Linked DNA regions of Homo sapiens: all the other regions are reported to be linked to region 2. The links are microRNA targets in miRTarBase. Many come from high-throughput screens and were not tested one by one. Region 2 holds a microRNA gene; each other region holds the end of a gene's coding sequence.

The links. The annotated mature microRNA hsa-miR-3665 reads AGCAGGUGCGGGGCGGCG and lies in region 2 at 1,733-1,750, shown strand. An mRNA with a match to its seed (bases 2 to 7 or 8) in the 3' UTR can be bound and repressed. Matches are read on the target gene's strand: a 7mer-m8 pairs with bases 2 to 8, a 7mer-A1 pairs with bases 2 to 7 and ends in A, and an 8mer does both.
Region 1: miRTarBase lists LCLAT1 as a target of hsa-miR-3665. Seed matches in the 3' UTR shown: 7mer-m8 at 3,221-3,227 and 7mer-A1 at 4,146-4,152.
Region 3: the mRNA of EVX1 is a reported target of hsa-miR-3665. The part of its 3' UTR that is shown has no 7-base or 8-base seed match.
Region 4: the mRNA of ANGPT4 is a reported target of hsa-miR-3665. Seed matches in the 3' UTR shown: 7mer-m8 at 2,286-2,292, 7mer-m8 at 2,213-2,219 and 7mer-m8 at 1,109-1,115.

What each region holds. Positions count from the first base shown.
Region 1 is chr2:30,639,884-30,644,876 of GRCh38, forward strand. LCLAT1 (lysocardiolipin acyltransferase 1) reads left to right here. Exons shown (of 6, transcript NM_001002257.3): 6 at 234-4,342. The coding sequence ends at 736. Among named protein-coding and RNA genes, the nearest start is that of CAPN13, 170 kb to the right of the region's middle.
Region 2 is chr13:77,694,832-77,699,824 of GRCh38, reverse strand. It overlaps MIR3665 (microRNA 3665), which reads left to right and starts at 1,709; the gene lies at 1,709-1,813. SLAIN1 (SLAIN motif family member 1) reads right to left here and starts at 2,138. Exons shown (of 7, transcript NM_001242868.2): 1 at 1,286-2,138. The coding sequence starts at 1,911. RefSeq lists silencers at 1,071-1,220, 1,381-1,620, 1,821-2,380.
Region 3 is chr7:27,245,708-27,250,700 of GRCh38, forward strand. EVX1 (even-skipped homeobox 1) reads left to right here. Exons shown (of 3, transcript NM_001989.5): 3 at 179-2,123. The coding sequence ends at 718. EVX1-AS (EVX1 antisense RNA) reads right to left here and starts at 1,522. Exons shown (of 4, transcript NR_120507.1): 1 at 1,254-1,522. RefSeq lists enhancers at 1-120, 121-730, 2,942-4,165.
Region 4 is chr20:869,190-874,182 of GRCh38, forward strand. It overlaps ANGPT4 (angiopoietin 4), which reads right to left. Exons shown (of 9, transcript NM_015985.4): 9 at 711-3,931. The coding sequence ends at 3,771. LOC124904854 (a long non-coding RNA gene) reads left to right here and starts at 1,763. Exons shown (of 3, transcript XR_007067485.1): 1 at 1,763-1,846; 2 at 3,708-4,952. RefSeq lists enhancers at 3,330-3,830, 3,831-4,331.

The DNA.
Region 1 (4,993 bases), not on the chromosome of region 2:
TATTTTCTTTCTAAATATTTTGTGGTAATTAGCAAGCAGGAAATAAAACTAAAGATGACTGGTAAATATTGACCCAGGTGTCCAGGAACACCAGTATCTCTAACCCTTGTTTGTTCATTGTGGTTCACACTGTCCTGATTTTTCGGTTTCTGGTGCTGCCCTGCAGTGTGAATCAGCATTATCACCCAAATTGAGCACTGCTTAATCTATGTTTTCATCTTTTCGAAACCCAGGTAAGAACCTTGATGCTGTCCATGATATCACTGTGGCGTATCCTCACAACATTCCTCAATCAGAGAAGCACCTCCTCCAAGGAGACTTTCCCAGGGAAATCCACTTTCACGTCCACCGGTATCCAATAGACACCCTCCCCACATCCAAGGAGGACCTTCAACTCTGGTGCCACAAACGGTGGGAAGAGAAAGAAGAGAGGCTGCGTTCCTTCTATCAAGGGGAGAAGAATTTTTATTTTACCGGACAGAGTGTCATTCCACCTTGCAAGTCTGAACTCAGGGTCCTTGTGGTCAAATTGCTCTCTATACTGTATTGGACCCTGTTCAGCCCTGCAATGTGCCTACTCATATATTTGTACAGTCTTGTTAAGTGGTATTTTATAATCACCATTGTAATCTTTGTGCTGCAAGAGAGAATATTTGGTGGACTGGAGATCATAGAACTTGCATGTTACCGACTTTTACACAAACAGCCACATTTAAATTCAAAGAAAAATGAGTAAGATTATAAGGTTTGCCATGTGAAAACCTAGAGCATATTTTGGAAATGTTCTAAACCTTTCTAAGCTCAGATGCATTTTTGCATGACTATGTCGAATATTTCTTACTGCCATCATTATTTGTTAAAGATATTTTGCACTTAATTTTGTGGGAAAAATATTGCTACAATTTTTTTTAATCTCTGAATGTAATTTCGATACTGTGTACATAGCAGGGAGTGATCGGGGTGAAATAACTTGGGCCAGAATATTATTAAACAATCATCAGGCTTTTAGCGACAAGGAACACACACATTTTTCTTAAAGGCCCAATCCTAACAGACTCCCCGTACCAGAGGCAGATCTGGAACTCGTCAACAACAGCCCGGATCACATGCTGTTACTGGACTGCCCAGGTCACCTCATTGAGGTGAGCGCTGTCCCTCCAGGTACTCAGGCAGGTGGTGCCCAGGCTCCCTCCCTTGGCGTCCTTCTTCCTGCGCCAAACCCATCTCATCCTTAAGATCAGAAAATGGAACCCCCTTTGTCGTGAAACCGATCAAGCATTTTGACAGGAAGCCCTTCATTATTCATAACATTGTATGCTGACCAAGACGTCAGAAGACCACCTGTGCCCTTTTCTCTCGTGGAAGATAAAACCTGGACTCAGGGAGCAACCACAGGCTCTCCACTTTGAAACTTTAGTTTGAATTTTAAAAGATAGGAAGTAATACAGTTTAAGTTCCTTTCTCACACTCAGTATTGCATGCTTAGTGCTGGTTTTCTTACAACATTTTGGCAGGTGTAGCTTTTTCTGTTAAAAATGGTATACATGAAGTCACATACTTTTTTAAAGGAACACTCAGAACATTCTGTCATTCCAGTCAGAAACTGTCTTTTGAAATATTTCTTTACAACCTACCAAAAAAGGAAGGTTGTTTTTTCTACATGTGCTTGGGTATCTAACATCTACCATTAAAACAACAAATGGCTTGCAGACAGGGCAGTAATGGTTTATCCTAAATTACTCAACCCCTTGTAGCCTTGACAAATTTTACCTTAAAACCAAAATGAAACACAAAAATTAATCCTTAATAATGATAGCAAGTGATCTTTCTTTTTAGTTTTAGCCTTCCTTTTTCAATAGTAATATTTAAACCCACTTTTGACCAATTGTTTGCCCAAATATTCTTGTCATTTGGAGTCAGTGGAAAATCCAGCACACCAAGCACCAGTCTTCTTCTGAGGCAAAAGAAAAGTGTTGTCATTTTCACTCTGTTGGAGCTGCACACTTTTTTTTCTTTTTTTTTTTCTTTTTTTTTTTGTCGTGTAAGAAGGATGCTGGTCAGAGCTGCAGAAAATATGAGGCAATTAAAAGTCTTTAGCTGTTAGCAAACCTGTTAGTTTTACTTCTGCATTGAACCAGCCTCAGAAGCTACTTACTGCTTTATGTACTCTTTGGGCATTAATGCCTTCTCTGTAATTATATCTCGTTTTTGCTTGACAGTGACCTACCCAATAATTGCATCGTGCATTGCCATGAAAGGTAAACACATTGTGAACTGAACTTACCAAGCAGATTCTGTGAGAAAGCACTGGTTGAGGCTGAACACTGTTGACACATCATTTTTATTGGAAGAGTATTAACTGGTGCCTCTTCTGAAACACACCAACCCATATTCCTCTGCTCCCCCAAAGCTGTTTCTGATCCTGCTGGGAGCAACTAACTAGTTATTATGCACATCTGCTCCAGACCCAGCTCTTTAACTTCATGGTTTTACAGCTTGTTTTTTCTTTTTCTTTTCTTTTTTTTTTTTTTTTTTTAAAAAAGCACCTTTTTTTGTTGTTTCCCCTTAATAAAAGAGGTTTCTAATTTATGTTTCTCTAAGATTTCCTTTGGTTGTATTTAGAAACACAAATAGTTTTATAATCAGGATTGCATTTGTGCTGGGTAAAAGAGGAGAGCTGTGCTTTCTACCCCAAAGTTGTTGGTAATGGAGCCGGTCTGCCCTTCCTACAAACTCAAGAGGCTCATTGTTCAAGGTGTAACAACATTTAATTGCATGTCCTCTAACGCTTTGAAACCTTTAGAGGGAAGATCCTCATTTTTTACAATTTTGTTCCTTTTCATCATAGAAAACATGTTTAAGATAAAATACAAACTTTACCTACCCCAAATTCATAAAGTACATTTAGTGCTGTATAGCACTAAAACTTAGAGATACAGACACTGTACTTACTTTTTAAGAATTAGAGACAGTAACTCCAAAAATAATTGTCCTTTTTTCTTTCTTTCTTTTTTTACAATAAGGCTCTTGAAAATTGTCATTACTTGTGTTTTCCTATACATTCATCTGTGTGAAAGCCTTTTTCTTCTTTGATTTAAAAAAATTAACTATACAGTTAATGGTTTAGAACTTAGAACTACTTAGAATTAATGCTAAAGTGTCAGGAAGAAATTAATTTAGCTTCAATAATTGTGACTGGCCTCAGGAATTCTCCCTTCCACACCTGCCCACCTCACCTCACTGCACCGCACCGCACCAGAGCCAGAGCAGCTGCTTGTCTGCAGCAGGACACAGTTCCTACATACGTTTCAGTTCTTTCATGGTAAGCTCAATGGACTTTGAATTGTTTACAGTGCTGTATGTCCAATTGTTAAATGTACCATTCTGAACGATGTTAAAGCAAGTGTGGTTTATTTATGGCATGAACCATGTAACTTGAAATATGAACTTACAAGGAGGGGCACTCATTAGGTAACAAGTTCTTACACCAAACTTCCTTGATGAAATAAGCCAAAATAATCCTAAAATTCATTAGAAGAACTTGATAAAAGACTCAAATAAATGTTAGAAAGAGCCCGTAATTTTAGGACTCCTATAAAATTCTTCCTTGTTTGTTAATGCTATTAAAACTCAGATTCAAGGGAAATACCAGCTTCCACTTGAGTCACTTTGAAATAGTTAATTCAACAGCACCATGTTAGAAATATATTGGCAGCCAAGACTCTGAACTCTGCAGAAACATTTGTTTCACCCAGACTTCAAACTCTAGCCCTGACTATGATGCCCCTGTGTGCATTTACAATAAAGACTCCAACGGAGGGAGCCTGTTGGTGTTAAATTGTTTACATTTCTTTATACAAATAATGTGCTTTCAGTGCCTTAGTTACAGCTCCCTTTCTGTTTCTTGTTCCAAGGATTCTGTAGTATGTAGTGTGTTTCTTAGGTAAAGTCTCTTTTTGCTACTGAAAGGGAAATGGTCTCTAAACACTGGTCACTGTAGCAGGTAAACACTACTCTAACGTGGAGAAATGAGCTTCATGCTGAGGTAGTGGTTGCCTTAGAGCTGTTATTTATGCTGTAGAAAACGAAAATGGTTTTGCTACCTGATAAGCTTCAGATTAGATATAGCCCTAAAGTTATCCTGTACCTGCATTAAATTTTCATTTTAGAAGAGAATCTTGGTTTTGGTAATTCATTTTTTTTTAAGATCATTATGTGCAAAACACCAAGTTTTAAAAATAACTCACAGAATGGCCTTAGTTTTCAATGTCTGATGGTATATTTGTGAGTTGTGTTATCTGTAATATACATCCCAGAATAAAGGAGTGAATTAAATAGTTTACATGTGTGTTACGTTCTGTTTTTGCAGGAATAACAAGTAACTGCAAGTTAAGGTGCTACTTTTTTCCCCACAATGCCTTGCATTGCAGTGTCTAGTGTTAAGGAAAAACCTGGCCAGTTAGGTCTCTTTTTTCCACAGATGTCAAGAAAAGTGGCCTAATCAAGAAAACAATGTACTACCTCCATAATAGGAAAAGTCCAGGCACCACAATTGAATTAAGGACTCAACGAATGTCATCAGAACTTGATTTTCCTCCATCTCTTAGCACAGCCTTGCTATTGAGAACAATTTGGTTGTTCCACAAATGTGGGATCTTATATAAATATCAGCATGACCAACTCTTACCTAAGATAAGTGGGACTCTGTGCTCCAGTCCCTGACCTCACGTTGGGGAGTATATAACTATAAAAGCAAATCTTGGACCAAAATCTGACAAATGTATAAAAATGTGCTTAGCAAACAGACAAACACATGAGAATCACGGAGCCTCTTGTAATGGGGCCTTCTGCAATGCCCCACTCTGTCTTCTCAAGTGAGCACTTTGTGTGATAGATTCATGTGGAGGGGAGTCCACAACGTTGTTCCCTGGGAAAGGGGAATGCAGGACCAGAAGAGCACAGACCCGGCCCCAAGAGCGCCAGTCCCACAGAC
Region 2 (4,993 bases):
CTTAAAGTTCCCAAAAGTGATGAGTTGTTTGATTTTTTTACACCTTGAGCTACCTGCACAGCTGCCAAAAAGTATTAAGGTGGATGATGAATACACCTCTGAAAGGCTTACTGTAACTCCATATATTTTGATTCTTGAATGAAACCAATTAACTAATGTACTTTACAGTTAGAGCTCTCACATGACAGAGTGTAAGGGAAAAGGAACACTGCAGTTCCCAATAGGAAACCAGTAAGGATCTCCATTTCCCAATCCCTTCCATGCAATCATGCAACAGAGACACAAAGAAAGTAATGAAAACACAGCTTGGAAAAACAGAAAGGGTCCTACATAAAAAGGACCTAAAGTAAAGAAGGACTACAGCAAGCCTCCCCCTAAAGTTACTCATTCATGGAAAGTAGACAGTGCTAACCAGATGTCAACTGAATAAATGCTGTCAGCCTCAAGTTTTCTGATAACCAAGCTAAAAAGTTTCCAAGAAATAAGAAAATAAGGCTTCTCTAATCTCACTTTTCTTCTACAGTTTAATTTAAAAAATTAAAGACAGTTCGTTGGTTCCTAGGTAAAAAAATAAATAAATAAATAAAAAAGTCCCTCCCACCTGTTCATTCCACTCCAAGAAAAGTCCTCTTTATTGGCACTATTTATGGGAAAGCCAGTGAGGTCACCCCATTTTAAAAAGCAAGTCAGTCTCTGAAAATAAGATTTCAATGAAAATGCAACGCAAAAGGGCACACGACTGCAAAATTCAAACAGCAAGAACGAACCTCTCTATAAAGAGAGATCCATCACTGCGCGGCTTCCGATGCCACCCGAGGAGGAAGAGCACGCAAATCCTGTCCAGCGTTCGTTTAAAACGAAAGAACAGTAACAGTCGCAGACAGAGGCCAACCCCTACCATCCCCCGTCATCCCTCCGAAAACACTGGGGAAAAGAGCAGCACTGAGCAAAAAGACAAGATGACATGGATTTTGCACTTAATGCTAACGAGGAGCTTGGGACCCAACAATCAGCAAATAGCAGAACCCATGGCAGATGGGGGGAAGGGGGGGCCGGTTCATCCGCAGTCGGAGCGATTAGAAAACAGGTTTCTGCCTTCATGAGAAGCCTCATCGTGGGAAGTGTCACCGCCTGGCTCAACACCTGCTGGGTCGGCCCCTCCGGGAGCCGCGGGGAGTCACCCCGGCTGCCGCGAGGGGACCCCCGTCCGCCCCCCGCCCCCGCTCCCCGGTGCCCGAAGCCCCCGAGGCCAGGGTCTCGGGGAAGGAGCGGAGCCAGGCAGTACCAGGTGTAGTCGTCCTCGTCCCGCCAGGCGGCTACGCTCTCCAGATCCAGCAATTCCACCTCGTCCAGCAGCGTGGGGGGCGGCGAGGGCGGCGCTGCAGCTGCCCCTGGCGGCGTCCCCGCGCCCCCCGGCTCCGGCCCGCCACCGCCCGCGCCGAAGAAGCCTGCTGCCGGCTTGAAGTAGACGAAGGGCGCCTCGGGTGGCTGCGCCAGGCTGCAAAGCAGGGAGGGCGCGGGGCTAGGCAGGCAGAAGGTGCCCGGGAACGCGGGGCTGGAGCCACCGCCGCTGCCACTACCGCTGCCGCCACCGCCCCCCGCGCCCAGCGCCAGCCCGAGCCCCAGGCCCCCTGAGGCCGCGGCGGTGGCCGTGGCGGCCGGGGGGCTCCGAGGACCCAAAGGCTGCAGGCCAGCGGGGGGCGGCGCGGCGGGCGGCGGCGGCGGCAGCAGCAGCAGGTGCGGGGCGGCGGCCGCGCTGGCCGCTCGACTCCGCAGCTGCTCGTTCTGCTTCTCCAGCTTGCGCACCAGCTCCTGCAGCTTCTTCACCTCCAGCTCCGCGTTCACCACCGGCCCGGAGCCCGCTCCAGAGCTGACCCCTGCCGAGGCGCATTTCACCTGCTCCGCCATCATCGTGGGCCCCGAGGGCGCCGCGGCCGCCGGGGAGTGCGCGCCGCCGCGCCGGCTCCTCGGGCCACGGGGAGGCTACGGCTCCTTCCCTGTCGCCCCGGCCTGGGGGGCCGACCACGCGCGGGCTGAGGCCGAGCCGGCGGTTCGCATCAGCACCGGGCCCTCGCCTCCGGCCGCGGCAGCCACCACCGAGCTGATCTGCACATGCTCAGTGCGTCCCTCCAGTCCCCTGGGCGTCGCGGCGGCTCCGGGTTTTAGCCGCGGCCCCGGAGCGGGGCGGGGCAAGAGCGCCGAGGGGGCGGGTGGGGGGGGGGGGGCGGAGAACCGTGGGGAAGCCCACCCAGGGGGCGGGGCCGGCAGCCCGGGTTGGGGCCGGGGAGCCGCACCCACCCTCGCTACCTAATCCCAGGGGCCTGATTGGACCTGGCCTGAACTTTCCCGCCACAAGCACCTCCTCCTGCCGCTTGGTGGGACAGTGAACTGCGCGGGTCTCTGAGGCGGTTGCGGGGACCAGGGGGTTCCCAAAGAAGCAGCTGCAGGTGCTGGCCCTCGAGTAGTGCACCACCGGCCCGCTGGTTTGCTCCCTTCCCAGCTCTCTGTTAGGCTCCGTGACAGCACTTAATAGCCACTGGCTAACGAATCCTATAGAAAACTTAAAGGCTGGGGATCGTTATTCTAAAAACCGAAAAGTGGAGATAGGGGGAACAGAAAGGCTTTGGGACCATGCCACTCATGTTCTCATTGGTAATAGAGAAGCAAAATGGTGGGAGACAGGAGACCGAGAAGAAAGAGAAGAAAGCCCTCTCTCTAAGAGGTAGAGTGGCCAGCTGCTAAGGAGACAAGTGTTTACTTATTTATTCTAAAATAGTCAAATTTGAACTGTTACCATCATTGTTTGTCACAATAAAAGAAGAACTGCTTTTTTTTTCATACTATGTATATTCATGCATTCCCCAAACAAAAGATCTTTGAGCACCTACTCTGTGCCAGGAACCATTCTAAGAGCTCGTGATGCGGGCAATGAGTACAATAGGCAAAAATGGTTATGGGGAGAAATATGAGTAAAATTGTTTAGTGCTCCTTCTATTAAATAATGTGTAAGTTATTAAAGTCAGACTTGCTGGTGGGAAAGCAGAAAACAGAAAACCTCAGAATTCTACCCAATACACTTTAATCTCACCTGCAAACCTGCTATTTCTTACCACTTGGAAAACGAGCAAATCTGCTTTTTTTAAAAGAGGCTTTTAAGCAGAAGAATTTAATCGAGTTGTGTTCAATGAATACTGACTGACTTAGCATTTTGAGTGTTTAACACAATCAGAGGAAAACCTGAGATTATATTATGAGAAAAATCTACACCACTGGTTCTCATCCTCAGATGATATACTATCTAGTGAAAGTCCTTGCTAGGGACTTTACATACCAATCTTTGTGACAATGTACCTCATTTCTCTGGAGCTGCTAACACATCGTATCTATTGGTTTCAGATATGGTTTTGTGTCTTCCTGCTCAGAAACACTTGTATCTTCTCAGTTGTTAATCTACATCTCTAGCTTCTGTGTGCAGGGTGGATGTTCTGCATTTAACATGCTTGGTGAGCGCTTCCATAAATTAGCTAAATGCGTGTGATGACTCCCTTAACCTTCCCTGTGTCCCAGCTTGCTAGCCCACCACCTAACCACCTGTATCACCCATCACCTTTCCAAGTTTCGGTATATCTTTAGGATTTTTTTTGGTTATTACCAAAACCTGGAGAAATGGAGTAATACTACTGAAAGTCCTAAGTAAAGAATCTATTGAAGGATTTTTCCCGCATGCTCAGTGGCAGATGCGGGTAGCAGTATCTCCCTGCAACACAAAGAAAGGGAGACGACAGACACAATGAGAACAAAGAGCTGCTGGGTCCCAGACTAGAGAAAGAAATTGGGAATAGGCACATAATAGTGAAGACAACAAGAATTAAGATGTAAAGAAAAGCCGTCATTTTACTGCACAATTTATATACACTCTAAAGAAGGAGAGAAACAGACAGCCCTTTCCTCCTTCATTTACCCAATATGGTCTATATACATCCAACAAGCAGTAGCCAAGCTTTTGAACCCTGTTTTCTAAGTAATAATTATCATAAAAATCTTTGTTCTTTAAAAAGAAAGCATGCATTGAAATTTAGACATAGAAAAGAGATGAAACATTGTTTTACAATTCTAGTCTGCATTATTCTTCTGAAAAGACAAATTTGCCCTTTTCCTACCTATTTTAAAAGTGTGAAATTATTAATGTCTAAAGAAAATTTAAATCATGTTTTTGCTTTCTCTTAATGCCCCTCTTTTTTTCCCTTCTGTGAATTGCACATGTACACACACCAGAGACACTCAAAATGCACACTGATTTCAAGTTGGTGTCCCCAGGATGCCAGTCTCTTTAACGTATAATTAAAGAGGTTGATGGTGTCAAGGTTTTAATTAAGCAGTCTTGATTTTTTTATTTTGATGCAAATTAGTAAGCTTTGTGTTTTGAAAGAAATTGCATGCTGTAGTTGCTCAATTGTAATGTTTTGATTTTAAATAAAATATGTAGGTGATTTCAGAGGTTTACAAAGAGGATATGAAAAATGAAAGTGCATGTCTCATTTAAAAGTTTATGCTTTAAGCATACATTTGATACACCATAAGGTAATGTGAAACATCCACATATCACACATTCAAAACTGGATAAAGAAATGCATGTTTCTCTCTATTCATTACACTTCAGAACTATCATCACTCTAGTGAATTTTAAGAAAGCACATGAACTTATTTTAATTTGTATTTTTCACATATATTTCTAATACTGTGTATGAACATTAAATAGATCCAGCAACAGAATCGCAAAAGCACCCATAGGTTCTTGAGTATATAAAAATAATTCTCAAAGGAAATCTAGAAACAGCCTGTTATTATCCCAGTTTTACAGATGAGCTTACAAGGTTATGTTACTTGCCCAAGTTCACTCATGAAAATGATGGTTCTTAGCAGTTGCTAGTGGGCCAGAGTAAAATTTCTCCTAGAGTAAGATTCATACGTTTAAATTTTGCGATCAGTGCAG
Region 3 (4,993 bases), not on the chromosome of region 2:
ACCTCTCTCGGAGGGATTCCAGCTCCAGGTGGTGGTGGTGGGGTCGGTCTCTACCCGGCTGGTGTCTGCTTTGGCTGTTCCTGCCCTGCGAACACTGTCCCCGGAGCGGGACCAGACTACTGGCCTCTGAGCATCGGGCCAAGTCCAGCTACTGAACCTGCTCCGCTCCTCTCCCCAGGTGTGGTTCCAGAACCGGCGCATGAAGGACAAGCGGCAGCGCCTGGCCATGACGTGGCCGCACCCGGCGGACCCCGCCTTCTACACTTACATGATGAGCCATGCGGCGGCCGCGGGCGGCCTGCCCTACCCCTTCCCATCGCACCTGCCCCTGCCCTACTACTCGCCGGTGGGCCTGGGCGCCGCATCCGCCGCCTCCGCCGCCGCCTCGCCCTTCAGCGGCTCGCTGCGCCCGCTCGACACGTTCCGCGTGCTGTCGCAGCCCTACCCGCGGCCCGAACTGCTGTGCGCCTTCCGCCACCCGCCGCTCTACCCCGGGCCCGCGCACGGACTGGGCGCCTCTGCCGGCGGCCCCTGCTCCTGCCTCGCCTGTCACAGCGGCCCGGCCAACGGGCTGGCGCCCCGGGCTGCCGCCGCCTCGGACTTCACCTGTGCCTCCACCTCCCGCTCGGACTCCTTCCTCACCTTCGCGCCCTCGGTGCTCAGCAAGGCCTCCTCCGTCGCGCTGGACCAGAGGGAGGAGGTGCCCCTCACTAGATAAGGGGCCGCCGGCTGGCTGCCGGCTCCATGACGCCCGTGGGGTCACCCCCCGGCCCCGGGACTCAGCCAGCCTCGCTCCTCGCTCCTCGCTCCTCGCCCCTAGGACGCCAAGGGGGAAAGGAGAGGGCGGAAAAGGACCAGCGGGATCCGGCCGCAAGAATTGGAAAGCCTAGGAAGTGGCGGTGGCTGGCGCGTTTGGGGAGCAGGAGTGGGGATAGGGAAGCAGAGCTTGAGAGACCTTCCTCCGGGGCAGCCTCCGGACCCACCGCCCCCCACCAGGGTCGAGGCTGTAGCTCCAAAGCTAAACAAAACTTAGCAGCAACAGCAACCAATATCCAGTCCCTCGGCCCCTCGGCCCCTCACCCTCCACCTCACACTCCCTTCTCACCGGGCCCCCTCTCCCCAGCCAAGGCCCAAGCACTGGAAAGGGAAATTGCTGTCTCTCTGAACAAAATGCTGTGTATGCAGAGCAGGTAGAGATTAATCTTTGCCAGCTTTTCCAAGGCATGACAAGGGGCTGGTGGATGGCAACATACCAGTCATTTGGAGGAGAGAGTGAGAGATGATTTACTACCAGGGAGAATCCAGCCCCTTGGCATGGGACCTGGAGCCTCGACTACACAGCATCTTCTGGGTCTGGCGTCTGCCAGCACCTGATCTCTTTCCTCATTCCCAGCTTTGTGACACTTCTCAACTTGCGGCTCCATCTCTCCCTGCCCCCACTTTTTTGTTGGCCAGGGAGGCTGCAGATGCCCCAGGAGCCCTTTGCCGCTTCTATGAGGCCAAGCCTTTTTTCCCTGGGCCCAGCACACACCCTGATTAGCAAGTGATGTGTGCGAGGAGGGTTTGTGAATGTTGAATGTGTAATAATGATCACCATGGAGCTGGCCACTGACCCCAGAGCTGAGCTGTTAACAAGGCGCCCAGGGAAGAGCTTAGGGAGTGGGAACTTCACCTCCCTCTCTCGGTATCTGGCGGTAAATTAGAGGCAATTTTCATCCTTTGCTTGTTCACCTTCACTTCACCAGGAACTTTCTGGCCCTACCCTTTGCATTGGGTATTTTACAACTTTCTCTCATTTTCTTCCCAAGCTACCACTGGAGCTTGACTTTCAGATACCAGTGGGAGCCTTCTGTCCCTTTTGGGGACCCTGTCTGTGGCCTCCACCAGGGTTTGTTTAGAGCCACTCCCAAATCCTCACTCCCACACTCATCCTTGCAGCCAGTTTTTGAGGAAGAGGAGAACGTGTAACCCCAATGCAAGCTTCACCCTGACTGAGAGGGAGTGGTTCTTCCTGTAGGGAATGAATTTGGTTTGATTTGGGGTTTTCCTTTGAAGCCCAAAGAACTTGCTGTTATGATTCGTTAACCATATTGCAATAAAAGCTGGACATAATTCTCACTTTACATTTTAGTTTTTGTGGCAGCAGGCAGCTCTTAACTGAATTTTAAAGTTGCTATTTCAGCCACCATGGGTTCGAATAGGGAAGGAACCAAAAGATGGACCCACAGAGTCTTCCAAGCCACTGTTTGTCACTGGTAGGCTCCAAGCAGCCATTGCATGGAGGTGGAGAAGACAGGCTCCAAGCTGCCCTGGGGTGCATGTTTCCTTAATTTTGGGTATGTTGGGAACAGTTCCTTGGTAAAGTGGCAGCAGAGTGCTGCCAGGGGCCCACCCCTGTGGTTTCTTCTCCAGTTGTTCCAATCCTTTGAGCAACAGAAAGGGGACCCAGGTTGTGGTCTCTGAGCAACCTGCCTCCACCCCAGCCCAAAGGGAAGGTGAGTGGGGCAGTGGCAGTAGAGCCTGAGTACTGCAGAGACCTGAGTTTTCTGGTCAAACTGGGTCTGCACTTGAGGGTGGAGGACAGCAGGGAGGAAGGCTCCTTGGTTGGGATCATCTTGGTCTGAATTGTCCTCATACTGGAAGTCATCTTGAGGGTGGGATTCTGAGGGGTTAGGACAAGAGGAAAGGAGTGCTCAGCAGCTACCTTCCAGCCCGCACCTGCATCCCCCACAGGAGAGCCAAATGTGGCTGGTTGTGGAGTTCCACTTAAGCAGGGGAGAGATGGGTGCCTTCTGGGAGTCCAGGAGGCTCTGGATTGCATAGACACGAGGAGTCCTCTGCCACTGTCTTTGCCAGCACATAGAGACTCCTCAAATGCCCTCCTCCCTCCTTGGGTTCCACAGCAAATCCTCCTGCACACAGTAGCAGGTGCCCTCCCAAGCAAATTGTGCCCTGAGGTTTCCAGCACCCCCTCTCCTGCAGCCAAAAGCTCCTGAGTGCCAAATCCTGGTAAATTTTGCAGTTGCTCCATATTGGGCAGAGATTGCTTGCGACAGGTAAATGGGCTGCATGTTGCCTTAATGCCAGGCGTATTTTCAGTTAATAGGGAGGGAAAATGAGGTGTCTGCAGAGATATTGGAAAGTACAAGATCGATGATCCAGCTTCGTGTCCAATCAGCAGCCTTTAATTGACTGTATTTTCTGGGTAATTGAGCCTCTCTTCCTCCAAATTGAAGTGGAAGATATAACAATACATCTTGCCAGGAGGAATTACTCATTACTTCATAATGAAATTTCCCTTTTGCCAAGGTTTGCGGTTTGGCGCTAGGCACGACTTCTCACTCCCCCTCTCCCCCCAAATATTCTTAGCCCACTTGCATCAGGCTACCCCATCTGGCATGACACGTTCCATTTGGGTGGTGGCAGGGAGGAAGTGGGAGTTGACTTGAAGAAGATACTGCCCCTTCACAATCACAGCCTCCTTATCTGTAAAATGAGAAGGCTAGACCAGGGCCTAGCATGATGTTGTTTTCATTTTTCAACTCTCTCAGTGTCTCTACTTAGCTTTGCCTCATCTCGGTTCCATTTTGCAGGAGGGAAAACGGAGGCTCCAGGTCTACACAGCTATTAGTGGCCGATGTAGCTATGAGCTCCGGGCTCCCACTTCCTCTTCTCTTACCCTGTTCTGGGGCACAGATTCTGAGGTAACCCCCAGTGAAGCCTGACACCTCACTCCCGACTCACGCTTTCCCAGGGCTCTTCAATCCCGGCCAGCCGGCAGGGCCTGGGAGCGCGGTCCAGCGCCCAGCCCAGATTCGCCCAGTTGGGCAAGGCTGGCCACCCCGCAGCCCGAGTGTGCACCGGCCCCCGGCAATTGCTGGCTTGTTAGCGTGTGATTGATTGCCTTATTAAAGCGTGTTCTTGTAAGTGTGACCAAACTGATTGCATTGCATATGTTTGGGATAATGCTCATTTTAAACAACAGGATAAAGAGGATGAGCTCCGCAGAGCCTTGAAGACAAAATGATTCTGGCTAGCAGCTCCCTAACTATGGCATTAAATTGCTCAGTTACATAGCAAATCGCTACTTGGTTTCTGCATCCTTGTCCGTATTTTTTTTTTTTCTGTCCTACAGTTTGATCCTGTCTCCCAATGTGGCATGCCCCACGAACGGTTTCTTTAGTGATTATGTTGACTCCACCTTCCTAGTTTCAAACCCTGCACCCGCACTCTCCAGACAGGAAGTCCCTCTCCCTCGACCAGGGATTGAGGGAGAAGAGATTCAGAATGCATCTCCTTGCCCTAGGCCTTTCGGGGGGGACATGGCCTTAGACAGTCACCCCGAAATTGGGCTCAGGTCCTCACAGTAAGTCGAGTGTCCCCCCACATCCCCAACCCCGGCCCTTTCACTAAAGTTTAAAAGATTCTTTTGTTCCTCAGGCTTCTCCCGCTTGGTTGCTTCCATTATTCCCCAACTGCGGAAACACCAGCCACCATATGTCCGCCGGAGAATAAGCGTGAGTGTCGCGGTGGACAGTTGCCGCCAAAGGTGTCCAGACGGATGGCATTCTCAAAGTAGGGATCTTAGCATCCTCTCCATACATCATCACCCAAGAATGGTAGAGGAAAGAGTAGGAGTGGGGTTACAGATAGGAGAGAAAGGAGGTTGAGGCCACAAAATTGGCATTTCTCTAATTATCAACCCCCTCCTCCACCATCCTGCCACCATTTGTTATGGCAAAGTTCTCTTTCTGTGCCCCTTCCCTAATAAAGAAATCCTCAGTCAGCCTCCACCTACTCCTTTTGATTTGCAGGAAGCCAAACTGCCAGCAGATTGAGCTTTCTAAGGGATACCTTTGGGATATGTTGGAATTCTGATTTGTTCAAGATGATGACGGTCATCAGTACAAATCAGAAACAATGCCACTCTTCAGGGTGTCATTTGTAAGTGCAATAACACGGATTCATTTGCAAAACCCAGCTAAACTGCGTC
Region 4 (4,993 bases), not on the chromosome of region 2:
AGGCAACCCACCAGCCTTGGCCTCCCAAAGTGCTAGGATTACAGACTAGGAGCCACTGTGCCCGGTGCCTAATTTCTTCATCACTGAAATGGGAAGAAAACTAACCTGGTGCAGGGAGAGGTGACAAGTGTTTTCCATAGGAACCCGCAGATGCAGGTATCCTAGAGGCTGGCACCTATGAGCTGTGGCCCCCAGGAGACCCAGTCTAGGCTCGAGACCACACCAGCCGTGCCCTCTACAGTGCCTTGTGCTGCCCAGGATCCTCAGGTTGGTCTTGTCTGCAGCCATTGTGAGTCAGCCTCACTGTCAGAAGGGCTTTCAGAGGTTGCTAGGTGCTCTGTCCATGGGAAACTGAGGTTCAGAGAGGGCCAGGGGCTCTGATCCAATGGCAGAGCCAGACTGATAACAGGGTCTAATATTCCTGGGCAGGACACAGCTGTGCCCTTGATAGTCAGAGGCAATCTGGGATGAACTGGATCCTGGGGTCAGGACCTGGGGACAGGGAGGCCGAGAGAGGGCACAGAGGTGGAGAGAAGAGAGATGAGAGCCAGGGACAGGGAACGAGGGAAGGCTGCCTAGCATCCCTGTTTCCTGAAGTCATGACTTGGGTGTCACTGACCCCACTGCTGGTGCCAGGCATGATCATGAGACCGAGGTCTGGTCAAGCAGAGTAAGAGTGATAAGCATAGGGATGGACACAAGACCAATCCTGGCTGCAGAAAATCATTCCTTTACTGGAATCATGGAGACGAGGGAGCTCCCCGGGTCAGGGATGCTGAGCTGGGAGGACATGAGCCTGGGGCTGCCAGAGCCTTCTTGTGAGGAAAGATCCTGGCTGAGAATGAAGTCAACGGGGCAGATGGAGGGGCTGAGAGGTGGAGCTGACATCATTTGAGCCTCTGGATCTAACCTCACTTGCCTTTACCCTTAGACTTTCCAGTTATGTGAGTCAATTTATTCCTTAGGGCTAGAATTTCTATCCCTTATACCTGAGTCCTGGCATGGAAGAGGAAGGAAGGTAAGAAAGAAGGATGAATATTTAAGAACAGGTGTCTGAGGCTGGGTATGGTGGCTCATGCCTGTAATCCCAGCACTTTGGGAGGCTGAGGCAGGTGGATCACATGAGGCCAGGAGTTTGAGACCAGCCTGGCCAACATGGTGAAAACCCGTTTCTACTAAAAATACAAAAGTTTTCCGGGCGTGGTGGTAGGCGTCTGTAATCCCATTACTCAGGAGGCTGAGGTAGGAGAATCACTTGAACCAGGAGGCAGAGATTGCAGTGATCTGAGATCATGCCACTGCACTCCAGCCTGGGTGACAGAGTGAGACTCTGTCTCAAAAAAATAAAATAAAATTACATAAAGAACAGGTGTCTGAGGATAACTCAAATCAGCTTCCTGCCCCCTTATAAAATGGGAGTAGAGAGGGACTTGGGCCTTCAACCCACCCAGAGGAGTTCTGTCCCTGGGCCTCACAGCTTTGCCCTGTCTCCTCTCTAGCTTGCAGTCAGCCTAGAAACTACAATAGAAAAATAAATGATGTGGATACAAAAATAAAATGCCTTTTCCTCACCTGAGTGCAGGAGAAGGGGCGGCATGTGCTGGGGAATGCCTTCCTCACCCCATTCTCCTCTTTGAGGACAAACATTTATTAGGCACCTGCTTCATGCCAGGCTCTATTAAGAAGATGACATACATGGTCTCATTTCCTCCTTGCCATAGCCCAGCCAGGAAGGAATATTATCATCTCCATTTTACAGATGGGAAAACTGAGGCTTTGATGATGTGAAGATAACTGGTGCCTTGAGAGGCTGAGCCACTGGACCAAAGTGTCAGAGCTGGAGCAGGTTTGTCCGACTCCAAAGCCCTGCCCACCACACCACACTGCACACAGTAGAGGCTAAATAAAGGTCTGCTGGGCAAATGCTGCTTAAGGCGATTTGAGCTCTCTGGGCAGCAATCTGCCCCTAAAGATTTCCCATCATGCCTGAAATGCCACCATTAGCAACCATGTCCTTTGAGTCTTGAAGGGGAAGAGTGCTAATTCCCAGGAATGAGATCAAAGTCAGTCTGTGCTGGGTTTACTCAGGGATCGGCTGAGAGTGGGACTCAGGGCTGGGGCGAGCCAGGGGGATGAAGGGGTCCCATTCCCATTGGCTCAGTCTCATCCAGGAGAAAACCTTCTGAGGACAGAGGTGTATCCTGGCGGTAGGGCAGGTGGGCTCCTGGCTATGCCTGGGTGTTGGCTGATGACAACAGGGCAGACAGCATGACACAGTGATGGGGGCAGGTGACAGAGTAGCTGTGGATCCTTTCTGACTCCATCCTCTGAAAGAAGCTATGAGGGCCCTGGTCTCCCAAACTCAGGCAGAGGCCTTATCTCCTCCCCTGCAGCTCCCCACCTACCACCACAGAGGCAGCATCACTGCTGGATGGGGAAGGGAGGGAGGCTAGGGGTTAGGGCTTGGAGGCAGAGAGGATCTGGACTTGGAGACAGATGTCCTGCCTAACAGTCCCTGTAATTGAGCCTGGGGGAGTTGAGGTTACAGGGAGTCCTAAGGGAAGCCACCCAGGTAGAGATCAGCTTCCTGGGACTTGAAGGAGCCTTGGAGGACATGAGCCTATAACACAGACAGGGACCTAGTTCTAGACCCTTCTTCAGGGATGGTATCTGTTTTAACTGAAAGGTTATTTCCAGTTGTTTTTAGAGGTTGTTTGAGGCTGTCACTGTGGCCCTTGTAGCCAAAAAGGGTGAGTATAGCTGGGGTGGGGATGGGGTCGTAGGGCTCCTCCTTATGCCAGGGGAGCACTAGCTTTGTCCAAGAGCATCTACAGTCCTGTGAGATGCTCTGGGACAAACCGAGCCCATTTTCAAATAAGTAAATTTGGAGAAAGCTGCCCACTCTAGCCCCTTCATGGGTAGTCACAAGGCACTTGGCCATATTAAAGGCTCTGATCAGTCCTGCAGTGAAGAGTGCCTGTTCACTTTGACTTAACCTGCTGTTTCCTTTTCTCATTGCTCATAGGTACTTTTAGAGACAAGCCATAGTTATTCCCTGTGACACATCCTCTAGGACATGCTGGAGGTGAAGGAGCATGTCCTTTTGGGTCTCCTAAAGACCCTGAGCTCCAAACATTGGAGCCTAGAAGTGGTGAAGTGGTAAAGCCTAGAAGTGGTGAAGTCTAAAGACCCTGAGATCTAGGGTCATTAGAACCTAGAAGTGGTGAAGTGTGAAGGGGAAATAATGATTAACCCACCCACTAAGGGGTGGATGCAGCCCCTTCAGACTTGAAAAGAAAGTTCAAGGACATCTCAAGACTAGAAAATCTTGGAACAGGAGCTTAGAATGGGAGATGGCCTTCTTGCCAATCCAAGGGAGAGAACCTGGGCCATCTGGGCAGCTTCCGATGTGCAAATACATTCCCACCTGCCTGCAACCCCACCATTGGTCATGGGAATCAAGTTTGGTCTGTTCTCAGCCCATTCAAGGTACTGTGACCCTCAGGCAGGGAGCCCCTGAAGGGGGAGGGAGAGAAGAGGGGCGAGGACTACATCAGAGGGATGGGCCCCGAACACCCTCCATGTCACAGACGGAGGGGAGTTGGGGGGCAGATGACCCTTCTGGACTTCTGGGTCAAGGAGGGCTGGCTCAGGAAGCCCAGGGTGTCAGGGAAGGCGGTGGCACAGTGTCTTGCATCTGGGTCCAGGTTGTCCAGGAGTGCCAAGTCCGAGCTTCTCCTGTGTGGTCCAGCCTCTGGCACAGCTGCTCGTTAGATGTCCAAAGGCCGTATCATCATGCGAGAGGCACGCAGTGAGTAGCTGGGGCCCTTGAAGTAGTGCCAGCGGATGCCGTCCATCTTGTACTTGTTGTCGGGAGCGTGGTAGTAGACGCCGTTGAGGTTTGACAGGCCACAGGCGTCAAACCACCACCCTGGTGGAAGAGGGAGGACAGGCGCTTGGTGGAGGTGGGAGCCCAGCCAGTGGCAAGAGGGCAGCCCCTGTGTCCCAAAGAGAACAAAGACTAATCGGGGCTGTTGCCTCCTCTGGGAAGCCAGCTGGCTGGGGATGGGGCTGGGTGGGAGTGGGGGTGGGGTGGACAACAGACCCTCTGCTCAGCCGGGGCCTCTAGAGGGCAGCAAGGGGCTCTGGCCACTCCTCGAGCCCCCTTGCTCCTCCCGGCCTTCTCCCTGAGCCCTTGGCGTCCCTGTCTTCCTCCCTCACTGAACCTGTCTTTCCAGCTCCCCAACCTCCCCTCATCGCTCTGCTCACTGCTTTCTAGTGGTCTCTGTCACTCTCTCTGAGTCTCTCACTCTCCAGGTTCATCTCTTTCTCTCTTATGGTCTCTGTGCGTGGGTCTGTCTCTGTGTGTCCCATTGTGTTCATCTTTCTCTGATGGTCTTTGTCCCTCTCTGCCTTTCGTGTCTCTGGCCCTCCCTTCCTCTGGGCCCCCATCTTTCACATGCTGTGTTTGTCTCCCGGCCTCTCCTTGGGCTAAGTCTTTCTCCCCCATCTCCCTCTGTACTTCTCTGCCCCAGTATAGCTCTCCATCTGCTGCTCAATGACTCTGACAGCCTTGGTGTCTCTCTCTTTCTCCATCTGTCCTCTGTGTCTCAGAAGGTCTCTCCCCCTGTCTCTGTTCTTCTTACTTTGTCTCTGTCTCCCATTCACCCCACTTCCTGTTCTCTGACCTCTGTGCCTACCAAGGAACACTGCCTGAGCCACAGCTGGTGTGGAGCTGCCCCTCTGCCTCCCTCTGGTCTCCTGATCCTGGTTCGGCTTGCCTGGGGTTGGGACTGATAGGGTATAGGGTGCCTCCCCCCCGGGGCCCTGCACTCAGTGTTTCTTTAGCCTTGTCTCTGAGGAAAACTGGTGGTGCCAGCTTTAGGAGGAGGTGAGACCTGGAGGGGACTTCAAGGACTCAATGGGGGAAGGCACCGAAGGGGCACAGCCAGGTGAGCTTATGGGTGGGCAAGGCCCAGACCTGCACCCATCC